Homo sapiens: one gene and its partner. The gene in region 1 interacts genetically with each later gene. Each region holds a gene or a part of one and is shown on either strand. Other genes may lie near its edges.

Region 1 (3,819 bases):
TCCCAGGACTTTGGGAGGCCGAGGCGGGTGGATCACGAGGTCAGGAGATCAAGACCATCCTGACTAACACAGTGAAACCCCGTCTCTACTAAAAATACAAAAAATTAGCTGGGCGTGGCGGCGGGCGCCTGTAGTCCCAGCTGCTCGGGAGGCTGAGGCAGGAGAATGGCGTGAACCCGGGAGGCGGAGGTTGCAGTGAGCTGAGATCGCGCCACAGCACTCCAGCCTGGGCGACAGAGCAAGACTCCGTCTCAAAAAAAAAAAAAAAAAAAGAAAAAAGAAAAAAGTAAAGAAAACTGTAATAAGGGATGTTTGAAGGATGGCGGGGTGGGTGGGTGGGGCTGTCTCTCACTTTTTTTTTTTTTTTTGAGACGGAGTTTCTCTCTTGTTGCCCAGGTTAGAGTGCAATGGCACGATCTCGGCTCACCACAACCTCCGCCTCCCAGGTTCAAGCGATTCTCCTGCCCCAGCCTCCCGAGTAGCTGGGATTACAGGCATGCGCCATCACGCCCAGCGAATTTTGTATTTTTAGTAGAGACGTGGTTTCTCCCTGTTGGTCAGGCTGGTCTCGAACTCCTGACCTCAGGTGATCCACCCGCCTCGGCCTCCCAAAGTGCTGGGATTACAGGCATGAGCCACCGCACCCGGCCATCTCTCACTTTTTAGATGTCTTCCTTCTCCATAGGTCCGATTATCACCCAAATGCTGGCAGCTCTCCAGACATTCCAGTTTCTCTTTTGAGCTCATCTCTCTCCTGAGATCCAGACCTCCTTACCCTATTTCCTAAGCATAAAATGCACTCACTTGTTCAGCAACTGTGTCCTGGTAAGTTCTCACGATACATCAGGCAATGTTACCAGTTACCTGTGGTTGGGCGTCTCCTGGCATCTCAAGGCTCAGAAGCCCCCAGTGTGAATGGTGTTTGTCTGTTTGTTTGTTTGAGACAGAGTTTTGCTCTTGTTGCCCAGGCTGGAGTGTAATGGCACGATCTCGGCTCACTGCAACCTCTGCCTCCCAGGTTCAAGTGATTCTCCTGCCTCAGCCTCCCAAGTAGCTGGGATTATAGGCATGCACCACCACGCCTGGCTAATTTTTGTATTTTTAGTAGGGATGGGGTGTCACCATGTTAATCAGGCTGGTCTCGAACTCCTGACCTTAGGTGATCCACTCACCTCCGCCTCCCAAAGTGCTGGGATTACAGACGTGAGCCACCACGCCCGGCCATGAATGTTTTATCTCTCTCCTCGGTGTGGATCCTTGTGCTGTTTTCTCACCAGAGCAGATACAGCTGACTCCGTCCTTTCCATAAGCCCCACAAATTCAGTCATTCCCAGACCTAGAAATCACCCCCTCCTCATTTTCATCCTTTGTGCTCTTCTACATCATCCCCAGACCAGGTCTCCCAGTCTCCTGGGAGACTCTTGTAATTAGTTCCTCACTGGCCCGCCCATCCCAAGCTGTCCACCTCCTTCCCTGGCTACCTGATGGAAGTTTCCAGGATGAAAATCTGATCATGTCATTTTCTTCCCTGGAATATTCTAATGACTCACATTGGAATCATGCATTAGATTTATGCCCACAGACAATCCTCCATGCAATCGTGTGGCTACACTCTTCCCTTGCACTCCAGGATTCCATGGAGTTGCAGCCACAATGAGATGGAAGAGAGAGGCAGGGCTGAGGGTTCAAGCTCTGGAAAATATTGGAAACAGGCTGCTGTGGAAGTTATGAGCTGCCACCAGCAGCGTAGACTCAGGTCTGAGGATGAGATCCCCAGTGGTTTCTGATACCACACAGTCCATCTCTAACATTCTCCTGTCATGGTTGTAATTCCTCATTAATAGATTTCTTTTTCCTGCATACCTGCTACATTCCTGGTTCTGTGCTGGGACTCACTTGCCGTTGTATTTCCTCTGCAGAGACCTGGTTCGAGTTCACCCCTCACCACGCTGGCTTCTCTGCACTGGGGGCCTTTGTTTCCATAACCCACTTCGGAAGCAAATTCAAGAAGGGAAGACTGGTCAGAACTCACCCTGAGAGAGACCTGACTTTCCTGAGAGGTCAGCGCTGGGGTCAGAGGGGATTAAAAGGGGGTGGGAAGTGGAGGAGAGGCAAGAATTTTCCTTCTGAGGGTCTAGTTTGCCCAGCTCTTAAATTTCTTGGGGGAAAGAAAAGGACTTGGTAGGCTTCCAGAAAGAGGAATGGTGTATTCCTTCTGCTGAGTCTTCAGTGTCTCTCAAAGGTCTCCTTAATGCGGCAGATACCTGATATCCTATCAAACAATCCAGGAGAGGGAGCTTAATAGAGGGGCTCAAGTCCAGGGCTGTGGCTTCCAATAAGCAGATTCAGAATGTGTTTGGGATTACATGGTGCTTTGGGAGGCTGACCTGGGAGGATCCCTTGAGACTGGGAGTTTGAGACCAACCTCGGCAACATAGCAACACTGTGTCTCTACACAAGATTTAAAAATTAGCCAGGCATTGTGGCATGTGCCTGTGGTCCCAGCTACTCAGGAGGCTGAGGCAGTGGAAGGATCACTTCAGCATGGGAGTTCAAGGCTGCAGTGAGTTATGATCGCCCCACTGCACTCCAGCCTGGATGACAGAGAAAGATCTTGTCTCAAAACAAACAAACAAACAAACAAACAAACAAAAAACTAGAATGTGTTTTGGGCACCAGCAAAGCAAGGGGCATACAATTTTTTTTAAATGGGGTATTTCCAGAAAAAATTACAACAAAAACCAAAAACAAAACAGTCATAGTGAGTAAAATCAGAACTTGATTAAATGTCCTTGACTGTAGCTTACACACTGGTATCACTTTTAGTTGTGGCTTCATAATCTTCTCAGCATTCAGGGTCTGAAGGCATTACCCTGCTGGGCAGACAGCTCCCCTACATAGGACCAACCATGCCAGCTTGAGAAAGTCATTAATGTTACCTGAGCCTCGTTTTTCTCATAGGGAAAGTACTTACCTCAAAATGTGGGTGTGAGAGTTAGGTATGATCCACAAATAAAACACTCAGCCCAGTGTCCAGCACATGGTAGGAAATTAAGGATGGTTGACTCTCCATGATTTTAGCATACACTTTTGAGACACACTAGGAGCCTGATACTATTTTAAATGCAGGGGATTCAGTCATGAGCAGGACAGTGAAGGCTCATTCCCTAATGAAGTTTGCACTCCAGGGAAGGAGATGATGAATGAACACACACAAAAATAAGTATGTATTATAATGTCAGATCATAGTAAATGCTATCTTGAAAAATAATTCATGGTAAGGGACTGGAGAGTGACTACAGTATTATTTTTAATTGGTGGTCAGAGCTTCTGACAGGAGATGGCCTTTGAGCATGGACCTGATGAAAAGTGAAGCCATGCAGATATCTTAGAGGAAAAGCATCATGGACAGAGGGAAGAGCAAATGCAGAGACCCTGTATTAGTCCGTTTTCATACTACTATAAAGATACTACCCGAGACTGGGTAATTTGTAGACAAAGGAGGTTTAATTGACTCACAGTTTCACATGGCTGGGGAGGCCTCAGGAAACTTACAATCATGGCAGAAGGTGAAAGGGAAGAAAGAACCTTCTTCAAGTGGTAGCAGGAGAGAGAAGAGCAAGCCAAAGAAGAGCTGCCCAACACTTATCAAACCATCAGATCTCGTGAGAACTCACTCGCTATCACGAGTACAGCATGGGGGGATCTGCCCCCATGATCTGATTACCTCCCACCAGGTCTCTCCCTCAACATCTGGGGATTACAACTCGAGAGATTTGGGTGGGGACATAAAGCTTAACCATATCAGACCCTAAGCCA
Region 2 (3,919 bases), on another chromosome or scaffold:
TTTGAGAACACTGTGTTAGACTACCTAAGAACTAAGAAAATGGTAAATGATAGCTATACTATTTTTCCTTCTTTTCTTATACTAGCAATTAAATACCTAGCAAAAAATATTTATTAGAGCAATATACCATTTTCATTTCACAGAACTACCTAACAGCTCTTTAAAGTTCAATATAATGGAATTTTACTCGTATATCCAGTTTCAAGAAAACCCACCCCATGACAAAACTTATTACAACACAATTTCTAACAACTTTAAAACAATTTTGTAGTTTACCTTGTATTGATCATTGGGACCCAGTTTGTTCCAGGGCTCTGGGTTATTTCTGTCCCAACTAAAAGAAATAAAACATTACGACTGTTATAATAATAAAGCACTATTTAGTGTTTTGTACTAAGAATACATTTTTGAACAGATCAATCTTATTTTCTATTAGATGAGGTATGGTGTTATTTCATTATGAAGTTGAAACAGGTAGAGGATCTATAATAAGCAATCTCATGTAATCAATTAGAAAAAAGGTAGAACACAGAATCCCTATCACAAGATACTTTTTATCTGGCTTTCACAAAACCTTTCCATTTAATTAATAAAGTGATATACAGAAAAGTGCATAGAATAATGATGAATCAATCTTTTGATTGTCTATTGTTTTTCAACTGCAAATGTGCAAGTGAAGGCAAAAAACATTTACATGTGCCGAGAACCATGATTATTTTATAAAAACAATTATTTTTATGTCAATCCTCAAAACATTACAAGATTTGGTATTAGCAGTTCTACTTTACCAAAGAGAAAACGAGACTCAGAGAAATTAGATAATTTCATGAACCAAAAAAAGTAAATGAAAACAGCAGATTTGAGATCTGAACTTATTGTATGACTGTAAATGTAACATTCTTTCTACTACCCTAATGTTATCGCCCTACAGAGACTGTGGCTCCTAAACTGCCTTGATCAGCTATCAAAGTTTTAAACATTTTTAAGTACTTACCAAACATCTGGATTGAACAATGCCAGACGCAAGAGATACAGTGTTGCTCCAGTAGCTCCAGTTCCAATAAATACAAAGAGGGGGATCAACTAAACCAAACACAAAATAGAATAACCATCTTCAAATACTTAAAACACTGGCCAACGAGAGATTACAGTAGTTTCTGCACATTGATTTCCAAGTCTCAAACTGTTATTGGACTGTTTTGTCTTAAAATTTAAATAAAGTAGATCTTACATTGAGGTAAGATTTCTTATAACTGTGTTCTAAAGAAAGAAATGGAATTTGGAAAGGATGTTAAGATGACTCTGGTTTAAGTGTCTTACTTTTTAATGTGGAGCAAATTATAGGTACATTTTTAAATTTCCAAGAAAATGTATCGAGTCTTCTTCACCTCTCTAATATTTACATGTCATTCCCATTAAATTTTCTGGCTTCCTTTATCCTGGGGCTTGAAAAACAAATTCTTTGCAAATTATTTAAGGGTGCCTCTATAAAGATGTATGAAAAATAGAATCTGAATAAGTAAACGTATCTATTACAAATACTGGCTTTAAGCATTATCTCTGAAAACGTAATGCTACCAATGCTTGCTGCGTATTTAGGGAACCGGATTTAAGACAGATTAAAGATTGCATAGACTTTTAGCTCTACAGCACATTGATGTGCTGAGGAAAAATGAGATGCCAAAGAACTTAACTGCAATTTCCACACTTCGAAATTTTCCCAAAAGCAACGACGTCCAGACAAAGTGAGGATTCCAAGATCACGGACCCCTCTTATTTACCAAAAGGCCTGGTGGTGCAATGCGGCGAATACAAGAACCTCCAGAGATGGTATAACACATAGGGAACCTGACCTATGCTAGTCTCTGACCCACACAGCGCACATCTATCCCTCCTGGACCGCACAACCTGCAAAAGAGAGCGGCCACCAGACTGTTCCAATATTCACTAACTAGAAAAAACTAGGTTTTTTTTCCGAGCAGTGTCCGTCTCCTTCCTCCTGTCAGACAAAACCCCACAATGCATGGCGTAGAGGGTCACAGAGGCCTGGGACAACTAAGATGACAAACACTAGGCGAGGCAGGGTCTGGTCTGACGGACGGTAAGTGGCTGTAAATGAGGACGTTCCCAGGGAACAGAAAGAGGCGCACCCCGACGCAAGAAGGACAAGGGAAAACATTAGGAGAGCGGTCACGAACTTACGCTCGGATGCTTCTTGGCCTGACCGATGATCTGGCGGAGCATGTTTGCGGCAGAGGTCTCCGACTGGAAAGGAGAGAACCGACCTAGCCACCAGGCCCTAAGCTAAAAATTATCTGCAATGAGACACTACGGACTTCCAAAGTCACCCAGGACCTCCTACCTGAAGGACCCTTGGCTGGGAGGGCAGCTTGCGGCAGGAGGGCCCGGATGCGACTGTCTTTAATAGTGCCTGCTTAGATCTAACCCCTCATATGTTCGTCCTGACCTGGTCGGACCATCATCATTCCACTTCATAGTGAAATGCCTTCATTGCCGTGCCATGCATATTTCTGAGGGGAATTTTTTTGGTCGAAACGAGGACTCTTCGATTGACCAGACAGGCACTTTCCAAGGGTGCCACGTACTGAGGAATGCGGTCGGAGCGTGGGCGCACGGGCCGCGCGCTCCGTGAGTAGGGGGCCTCTCCCGCGGCGCCTGAGAGCCGGGTCCGCGCGCAGAGGCCCTGGGGGCGCGCGTGCCGGGTGCGCGCTGGCCAGCTGTGACTGCCGCTGAGGGAGCTGCGCGGCGCCTCTGGGAGCCGAGCGCCGGGCGCCTGGAGGGCAGGTCGGGCCTCTTGCCGCTAAGGTCAGCGGCTGCGGTTTGAGAAGACTGCAGCTGCTTCCTGTGTTACGCTGTCGCAGACAAGCAGAAGTTAAAAACTAGTAAATGACTTAAAGGTGATAATAGTCCTGGCAGTGTATTTCTGAACCCTCAGATCCTGGCCCTCGGTTGAAAGTTCGTCGCCACAAAGACCTTTCCAACACGCCACTATCCCCCGTCCCTGGTCCCAAATTGCATCTTTAAAATGTGTTTTCAATGGTCGTGTAGCTACAGATAATCTTTCCCACTACCCCAGTCGAATTTTCATTTGTCTTTTGTTTTGTTTTCTTCGTTGTTTTTTTTACCCGAAGGACTTCCATAGGACAGGCTTTGCGGGGGAGGGTGGGGGGATTGGGATAAAATGTACACTCTGAACCCTCTCCAATCTCATACGTAGCTTAAAGCATTAATCAAATGATCAAGCAAGTATTAATAATTGGGACTAGAAATCATAGGAGAAGGCTCCACCGGAAGTTACACTAGCTCTGAAGGAGGAGCGGACATTAACCAGGTGAAAACGGAGGATGCAGGTGTACAGGGCGGAGGTAATAACACGTGAAGGTCTGAAGCTATTGAAAACCCGAGGGAGCTGTATGAGGTCTAGTGTGGCTGGAAAGTAAAAGGGAGAGCAAGGTGGGGATCAGATCTGCTGGGCCAATAACCGCTTAAACATCATGGGTTTTATGTTGAGAGCTTGGGAAGGTTGTGTTTTTAAATGATTGCTTTGTGAATAATTGATTAGAAGGGATAAGCGTGAGAGGGGAAAGACCTATCAAGGGGCCATTGCAATAGTCCATAATCTGTGTGACAGATAATGGTAGCTTGAACTAGTGTAGAGAATGTAATGATGAGAAAAAAAGATTCCAGAGATGTTTAGAAGGTGGCACCAACAGGACTTGGTGGTTGGCTCTCCAGGAGTGAGGAGAGAGAAGTTAAGAATAATTTCAGAGGTTCAGTTTTGAGCAGCTCTGTGGTTGTTGATGCCAGTTATTGAAATAAGCCGTAGAGAATGATGTATAAGTGCCTATGTAAAATTCAAGTGGATCTCTATGGGGCAGAAGAGAACTACACTATAAGT

Evidence for each region.
Region 2: changes in PLA2G4C (region 1) and COXFA4 together harm fitness less than expected from each alone (positive genetic interaction), as found in Homo sapiens cells (one large-scale study listed by BioGRID).

The regions. Positions count from the first base shown.
Region 1 is NC_000019.10:48,093,705-48,097,523, reverse strand, and holds part of PLA2G4C (cytosolic phospholipase A2 gamma isoform 1 precursor), read left to right. Parts: intron 1-601; exon of another isoform or gene 602-794; coding exon of another isoform or gene 795-825; intron 826-1,919; coding exon 1,920-2,060; intron 2,061-3,819. UniProt on the Homo sapiens protein: Calcium-independent phospholipase, lysophospholipase and O-acyltransferase involved in phospholipid remodeling with implications in endoplasmic reticulum membrane homeostasis and lipid droplet biogenesis.
Region 2 is NC_000007.14:10,937,814-10,941,732, forward strand, and holds the start of COXFA4 (cytochrome c oxidase subunit NDUFA4), read right to left. Parts: upstream 2,341-3,919; 5' UTR 2,245-2,340; coding exon 2,203-2,244; intron 1,084-2,202; coding exon 995-1,083; intron 335-994; coding exon 277-334; intron 1-276. UniProt on the Homo sapiens protein: Component of the cytochrome c oxidase, the last enzyme in the mitochondrial electron transport chain which drives oxidative phosphorylation.